Linked DNA regions of Homo sapiens. The protein of the gene in region 1 purifies or fractionates together with the protein of each later gene. This does not show direct contact. Each region holds a gene or a part of one and is shown on either strand. Other genes may lie near its edges. The genes, in order: BEND3 and TNIK.

Region 1 (3,913 bases):
TTTTGAAAAGTCAGCTATATCAGTTCAATTATTGTATTTGACAGAAATCTTTTGTTTCAAGCAATATGAACAGAGAAATGTTAATTTCTATCTCTATTGTCTTATTATTTAATTTCTCCTTAAAAACCTGAGTTGTCACTGTGAAAGATTGGTTAAATATATATCCCCTCACTACACACGTTTCATCTAGTCCTCTTTCCAAAAATTTAACAAGGTCGTTTTACATTCTTAAAGCACCACAGCAAAGTGATTTAAATGCAAAATGTGCTTAAGTGCTACTTAACTATTCCTAACTCTTCTACTGGGAAATCCTAGAAAACTGAACTAATGAAATGCAACTTCTACTTTAAAAATTCTAATTATAACTGTCACATTAAATTGAAGGTGAGAATAAAACTGGTGTATCTGTTAACTAAGTCAAGCGATGTACTGTGTCGTACGTGTTATTTAATGTGCAAGTGTAAAAGTCAAGTTCTCTGCAGAAATCGAAGTGCCTCCCCTCAGTCTTCTGCGAATGTATAAATTAACCATTCTCCCCCAAGCAGTCCTCCTCCCTTCCTCCCTCCGCCCTATTTTAAATGTAGATAGGGCGACCTAAGTCTTTTGAATTTGAAGGGCTGCTATCTCGGCCCCATTCTTTTCATCATCCTGTTTTCAATGACACTGAGCACGTATAGATTCTTCTATAAAAGCACCCCCTGGATGCAGGGCTTGGTTCTTCAGGCTGCTTGCTTAATTTTGCATAGCAATTAGTACTGACTTCACTAAACCAGTAATCCAAATACAGCTCGAGAATGTTCCACGTAGTTCCTCAAACTTAACCCTGTGCCTTTTGATTTCAAGCCCGAAGGGGGGGAACTTGCATAATTACTAAATTCCCAATTGGAGTGGTCTGAAGGAGGGTACGGTAAACCCAAACTATACGTTAATTCAAACCCTCGCCGCGACTGGGCAGCAAGGAGCCAACATATGCCTTCTTTTAAAAATCTATTCTACCTATTCACTGACCGCGCAGGGCCGTGCCACATGGTCCTCCCTTGCAGCCAGTCAGCTGTGAGCAGCAGATGGGATCATTTGCATTTTTCTTTTTATACTTTCTTTGATCGGCAAATTAAAGGATTTTTCTTAAATTTACATTCTCATTGTTTGCCTAAAATACAAACGTGGCTAAACTGTTGAATTGGGCTTCCCTGACTCTCACCCAGCACCTCCCCCTCCCCCTACCCAGCCACTGAGACTTGAGAAAATACCCGAGGGGTAGATTTCGTATTTATCAACTGGGAATCTACAGTCCAAGAGTTAGGAGTAGACAGAATCAGCCTTTATTGAGTTGGTGACTCGTGTTTTTCTATTTTAGGCGCTCGGCGCAGACAGCCCGTGGGTTTGTGTTTGTGGGGTGTGTGTCTGTGAGCGCGGGCGCTTCCGAAGCTCTCGCTCCGCAGCCTCACACCCCAGAACTTCGGGTTGCAAGAGCAGATTTTAGCTCTGAGGCTCACAACAGAGGGCGGCCACCGTGCAGGGGGAGTGGCCAGAGCCAGCTTTTCCCAGCGCCAGGGTCGCTCTCCCGGGTCCCGCCGGACTCCATGCCGCCCCGCGGGGCCGCAGGAGCCACCCGGGCCCTCGCGCCCCAAGGTCTTTGTGCCGGTGGCGGCGCGGGAAGACCGGCCCCGGGGGCCTGGGCTGCGGCCCAAAGGCCAAAAATGCGGGAGAGGCGTGGGCGCGAGGCGGGACAAGCTCCGCACAGTCGCCGTCCCGCAAGGGGCAAAAAAGTAGAAAAAGCCGTTTGGGGCCAAACTCTCGGGTCTGAGAAACCACGTTTCCGAGGACGAACTCGCGGTGGGAGGACACATGGGGTACAGGGGACATTGTTCGCGGCGCCTGCCCGGCGCGCCGTGGGTGCGCGGCCGCCGCCCCCGCCCCGGGCAGCCAGCGCGGGCCCACGTGGAGCCACTGCGCTGGCCGAGCGCGCCGGGCCGCCTGGGTCCCGGGAGTGCGCGCCCGAGCTCCCCGCCGCGGCCGTTCACGCCCGAGCGCCGCCGCCGCCGGTCCCGCGTGTGCCCCGCTGAGGGGGAGGGGCGGGCCGGGGGTGGGGGCGGAGGGGTTGTGGTTCCACTGCAGCGGGGGCTCCTGTGTCCTTGTGCGGAAATGACACACGGAGTCCCGTCACGTCACGCGAGAGCGCAGCGCACGGACACACACAAAGAGAGGGGAAAATACACGGCGCTCGCCCGCCCGCCGCCCCCAGCGCCTCCCCGGGCCGCCCTGGCCAGGCCCTCCGCGCGCGGCCCCCACTCCCCGGCCCCGCGCCCTCCCCCCCACGTGGCGCCCAAACTCGGCGCGGGCCCGCCCGGCAAAGTACAGAACTCGCGTCCCAGGTAAGTGCGGGGCGGATCAAGCCGGCCGCGCGGCGGCGGCAGCGTTGGCGGCTCCGGGGCGAGCGGCCGGTAGAGTGGCTGCAACATCCATGCCGGGGTGGGGGCGGGAGCAGGGGAGGGGACGCGGAGGGGGGCTGCTCCGAGCGCGCCCGCCGGTAGTAGCGCCCACCCCCGCGCGGGCCGAGCGACCGGAGCGGGCGCCGGGCGCCCACGGGCTCGCCGCGCCCATTGTGCTGCGCGCCCCTTTGTGCCCGCTCGGAACGCGGCGGCTCCATGGCGTTCTGGGGAGCACGCGCGCCGCGCGGGGGCGGGGGGTTCGCGCGGTGGAACCGTCCGCGCCGCCGCCGCCGCCCGCCCCACTCGCGCCGCGCGCCGGCCCCGCACCCCCGCCGGGCGCCGCGATGGAGCGGCCGGGGCGGCCGGAAGGCTCTGCCGTACTCGCGGCGGCTTGGCGCTCGCGCTCGGCGGGGCTTTGGCGGGGCACTGCTCGGCGTGTGGAAGGGGGTGTCGGAGCGGGAGCAGGGGGCGGGGACTGGAGGGAGATGCCGGGCGGCGAGCGGGAGGCCGGGGGAGCAGCCGCTCGGAGGAACGAAGCCTCCGGAGGCTGCAAATGGAGCGAGGCCGGCCCGCGGCGGCGGCGGCCGGGAGCGGAGAGGGATGGGCCCCGCCGCCAGGGGGCGCAGCGCTCCCTTCCCGGCCGTTCCACGGCGGTTCGCGGTTCCCGCTGCCCAGGAGCTGGAGGCGGGCCCGGCGCCTTGGGTGTGCACCCGGGCTGGCGCGAGGCCTGGCCGGCCGGCCGCAAAGCTGAAGCCTGGGGCGCTCGCCGCTCCTCGTGAGCGCTCCTTTCCTTCTCTATGATAAACGTGATTTCCCACGCATGCTTTGCCCTTGCCTCATCCGTGAGCTGTGCACCACCGATTTGGAGGCCCTTGTGTGCTTGTTTACCTACGTCTCCCTATGTAGCTATTTTAAACAAGGTGTTTTTACAGAGATAAAAGTTTTATTGATTGCTCAGGTGGTCTTTCTGGAAGAATTCTGCACGTAAACGCTAACTCGACAAGAGTGCCGGGAGGAACAAGGTTACTCACTAGAGTTGGAAATGTGCAGTTCATCTCCTTAAAGTAACTTTTGAATGGTTGAATACAAATAGTAAACATGCCACAGGGCAGCGTGGCATAGTGCCAGAAAGCTACGGTTGCAGGAAACTGAGGTAAGGAACTGAGTCCTTCAGGTAGCCAGGTATATAAACGGCTGGGATGGAGGACTTTCTCTTGTTACCCGCTCCCCACTTCCACCCTTGCAGTCCGTTTTTCTCTCTTTTTTTTTTAAACCATTCATCCCTAGATATTGGCTTTATACTACCATACAAGAGCCTGTCAAGCTTTCCTCGGTACTGGGACTTGGGCAAGATTTTTTATCTCCCTCACAGTTTCACATCCCCAGCCTCTAACCCGGTGTCTCATAACTTAGTAGGCGTTCAGTGCGTATTTCCTAAATGAATGGAGAGAGCCTCTTGGATTCTAGAGGAAAGATGGAGC
Region 2 (3,913 bases), on another chromosome or scaffold:
ATTTGCTGCAGACTTACCAGTCCCTCGCTGTTTCGGTGGCTCTTTAATGTACACAGTCAATGCTCTTTTTGTAAACCCTGGGCTCAAAGCATTAAAAGCAGATCCTGTCTAGAGAGGCCTTTATCCTTCTCACTTTGGGGGCTTATTGTTCTCAGCCAGTGATTCCAGACCGGACCCAGTCTAAATTTTCCCCAAATAGCAACAATGCATAATTTAAACCAGAGCAACCAATGACAGCACTGATCATTTAAATTATGCAAGATTTGCATGGTTTAAAAGTGAGTGAAGCAGGATCTTCTTTGGTTAGAAAATAGGTACTTTGAATCCAGTTTTAGCCCTGATTTTTAGAGCTCAGAGATAAACTAAATCTTGAGGGATGGGCTGGAATTGTTTTATAGATTCAGAGCTGGAAAGAGAATTGTAGAACACTCAGCCACTCCTTTCATTGAACACTTGGGAAACTGAAGCCCAGAGGCGTGAAGTAAGTTGTTCAAGGTCACACAGTAACAAGGGGAGGGGACAGCGAGGAGCGTGGTTTGAGGAAATAATCTAGATTTCCTGACTCCTCATTCAGTGCTCTTTTCTCTAAGTCACACTTTCTGTGGTGGAATCAGAAATCAATAATACATTTTCTGCCTGAGTACAAAAGAATAGCAGAAAGGAATAATTTCACCAGGGTCAGGGAATTTTATTTATTGAGAATGGCGAAACTACTTCATGCAAGTAAGCTTGTGATACATGAAACCATGGAGCTCTAGGCCACCTTTGGAATTCATCTTGTCCAGCCCTGGTTCAATGCCTACTCTGCAGGCAAACGACTGTCTGAAATCACCTAGGACACATGGTTGTCCTGCACAGGTAACCTCTCTGAGTAACCTGTGTCCATCAGAGCATGTCTCAAGGGGTCAGTATAAACATACATGTTATTCAGATGGCTCTGCATGTGAGGTTTATAGAGTTGTGTGTATGTTTTGTATTATCTATGTGGATACATATATTATGTGTAGTATTATGGATATAAACCGTATCCACGTGGGTGTATGAAAATGTGTGTATACATACATAGGCTACAGCAAACAATTTACTCATTCAAACCTGGGGCTTGAGTCATTCTTGCTTCAAGACATCTCAGTATTAAAAGAGATGAAAGTTGCCACCAGTGTGCTTTATTACATATGAGGCGAGCTCAGCCCAGAAAGCTTTTTGGAGATTAGCATATTTCTGGACCTAAGCACCTTGGCTGTCCTTAACTTGGCCCACAGGGTAAGGCATTCAAGGCCAGGAGTTGGCTGCTGCTGACCTCATACTCTCAGCTTCTGCCAGGACTCACATACACTTTTGTATTTGAACAAAATTAGATGATCTACACTTGTCTTTCCCCTTAGCCCTCATTCCCTAGCCATTCCTTTCTCCATTGAAACCCAGATTTAAGAATTGACCTCATCTGAAAGCCTTGCATACATCCCTTTGCTACACTTTTCATGCTCATGTTTTACTTGGTGTGTGATTTCCTTTCTGCTTCTTTACTAAACCGTGGACTTCTTGAGGGCAGAGGCTAGATCTTGTTCATCTTTGGAGCCATAGTCTCCATTAGTTGGATGAATGAGTACGTGAATGAATGCTTGAATGAATGGAGTGGAATGAACCCTGTCTCCCCAGTTCTATGTCCACCTCTTATTCACTCTGTGACTTTGGGTAGGACATTTAACCATAGTTAATAAGAATCATCACAACTGTTTGCCTTTCTCACATACTGGTTTCAAAATCAATAAAGTATTTAAGGCAATGCTTTAAAAACCATACAGCACTGTACAAATATGCTATCCCATGGTTAAGTAGAATTTAGTGGGAAAATTGATACCATCAACATTTGATTGCAATGATTTTATCTAATAGAAAATTATCTTTCCTGGGCACAGTGGCTCACACCTGTAATCCCAGCACTTCGGGAGGCCGAAGTGGGAGGACTGCTTGAAACCAGGAGTTTCAGATCATCATGGGCAATGTAGGGAGACTCCATCTCTAAAAAAAAAAAAAAAAAGTCAGTGTGGTGGTGTGTGCCTGTGGTCCCAGCTAATTGGGAGACTGAGGTGGGAAGATAGTTTGAGCCTGAGAAGTCGAGGCTGTGATTGTGTCACGGCACTCCAGCCTCAGTGACAGAGTGACATCTTGTTTAAGAAAAAAAAAAGAAGACTAAGAAAAGAAGGAAAATAATCTTCAGAAAAAGATATCAGAAGGTTCCGACTCTTTTTAACAGTACCTCCACAGACCTTAGCTGCCTTTTTCCTTTTGTGTACCAATGTGACCTTGTATGTTTCTTTGATGGCCTGAATTGAGCTTTGCGCCCCCAGTATTAAGCATTCATTACATATGAGGTAAGTGCAGCCCTGAAGTTTTTTGGAGATTAACATATTTCTAAACTAGTATCAACTATCAGCATTGTTCATTAAAACCTTCTTTTTTAAAAAAAGTTTTCTCTCTTTATGTATTACCGATTATTCAAATACAAACACATTGATCATGACTGTGCCTTCCTAAAGTTTTATCTTTTCCCTTGGGAGATAGAGTGGACACATAAAATGATACACTAATGGCCCAGTATTTAAAACTTTCTGGTGAGAGGTCTCATGGGGCTCAAAGAAATCTCGAAACATTATTAGTTCATTACTCCAGAGCACTTAATTAAATTTGGTCTAAAATGAGATTTTAGTAAAGTTGCATGAGTTGATAACAGTATCTCAAAATGATAACAGCATGGCAATTTTTTCATTAGATATTCTTTTTATTTTTCAGAGATACTAAACAGGTGTTTTCTTTACAATGGCATTGCCTCATAAAAAGTAGGGTGTGCTGGTATTTATCAGAACATCAGAGAAATATGCATAATCATTTTCATTATTCATTATTAACTGGAGTAATCTTTAGTACAAAAGCCAGTGTAAGTCATGGTTTGCTGTTTGCATAATTATCTACTTAGGAGGTCATGTAATATTTTGTTGATGAGAGAGTACCCAGTACATTTCTTTCAGGAAATATTCCTTTTTTCCCCCTTATCTGTAAAACTCTTTGATATCTTATAATTTCGAGTCTTGCCCGTTCGGCCTTTCTTCTTTCTGTGTCTCTGCCCTGGAATTAATCTTCCGTGCCCTTCTTGTTTCGACGCCATTCCTTCTCTCAGTGATAGTGGTTCTAAAGTCCACCCAGCCAGGCGCTCCTGTGATTGAATCATGGCCGCCATGCCCAGCTGAGCACAACCAGTCTCTGATTCCCTTCCTGATAGAATCTGGAGTAACTTGAGTCTGAAAGATGCTTTAATGTCAAATTGATTCTTACATTTCTGTGGGGGAAGTAGCTCTCTGAGAACAGGGCCTAAACTGGTTTGTTAGCAGTGTGCTGAGAATTCTAAGAAAATCTTAATGATATTTTTTGAATGAAATGTTATTCTGCACATATAAATATAAGGTCTCTAGTGGAGAGAGAGGGAGGACTTAAGTAGAAAATGTTGGATGAATTCCGCTTGTGATTCCTTCCAGTCTGGTTGGAAGCTTATTTCCCTTTAGAGAAACATGATTCTATCCACTCTTTTTTACATGTCCTGGTTGTCTCATGGGGGTGCCCTCAGTTTCTCAAAACACATTTTATATCACCCCAACTTAAAATTCTTCCCTTAATGTTTATCATATGGGTCCCCTTGTCTCCACTGTTCCCTGCAAGTGCTGTAGTTACTGTCCCCTGGGCAACACCCGCAACAGGACCTCCCCTCCTCCTGTGTCTCTACCACCAGCCTTCTTCTGACTGGTTTCTCGTACACTGTAGCCACGTGAGTCTTCCAAACGCACAGTTTCAATCTGGTTGTTTTTATTCAAGGCCTTCTCTGTCTCCTTAGTCTACAGACTGAAAACTAAACTCTTTA

The links.
Region 2: the proteins of BEND3 (region 1) and TNIK purify together in Homo sapiens (affinity purification with mass spectrometry; 2 studies listed by BioGRID and IntAct, with this or other methods). This does not show direct contact.

What each region holds. Positions count from the first base shown.
Region 1 is NC_000006.12:107,113,552-107,117,464, reverse strand, and holds the start of BEND3 (BEN domain-containing protein 3), read left to right. Parts: upstream 1-1,949; 5' UTR 1,950-2,375; intron 2,376-3,032; exon of another isoform or gene 3,033-3,585; intron 3,586-3,913. UniProt on the Homo sapiens protein: Transcriptional repressor which associates with the NoRC (nucleolar remodeling complex) complex and plays a key role in repressing rDNA transcription.
Region 2 is NC_000003.12:171,453,535-171,457,447, reverse strand, and holds part of TNIK (TRAF2 and NCK-interacting protein kinase), read left to right. Parts: intron 1-3,913. UniProt on the Homo sapiens protein: Serine/threonine kinase that acts as an essential activator of the Wnt signaling pathway. Recruited to promoters of Wnt target genes and required to activate their expression. May act by phosphorylating TCF4/TCF7L2.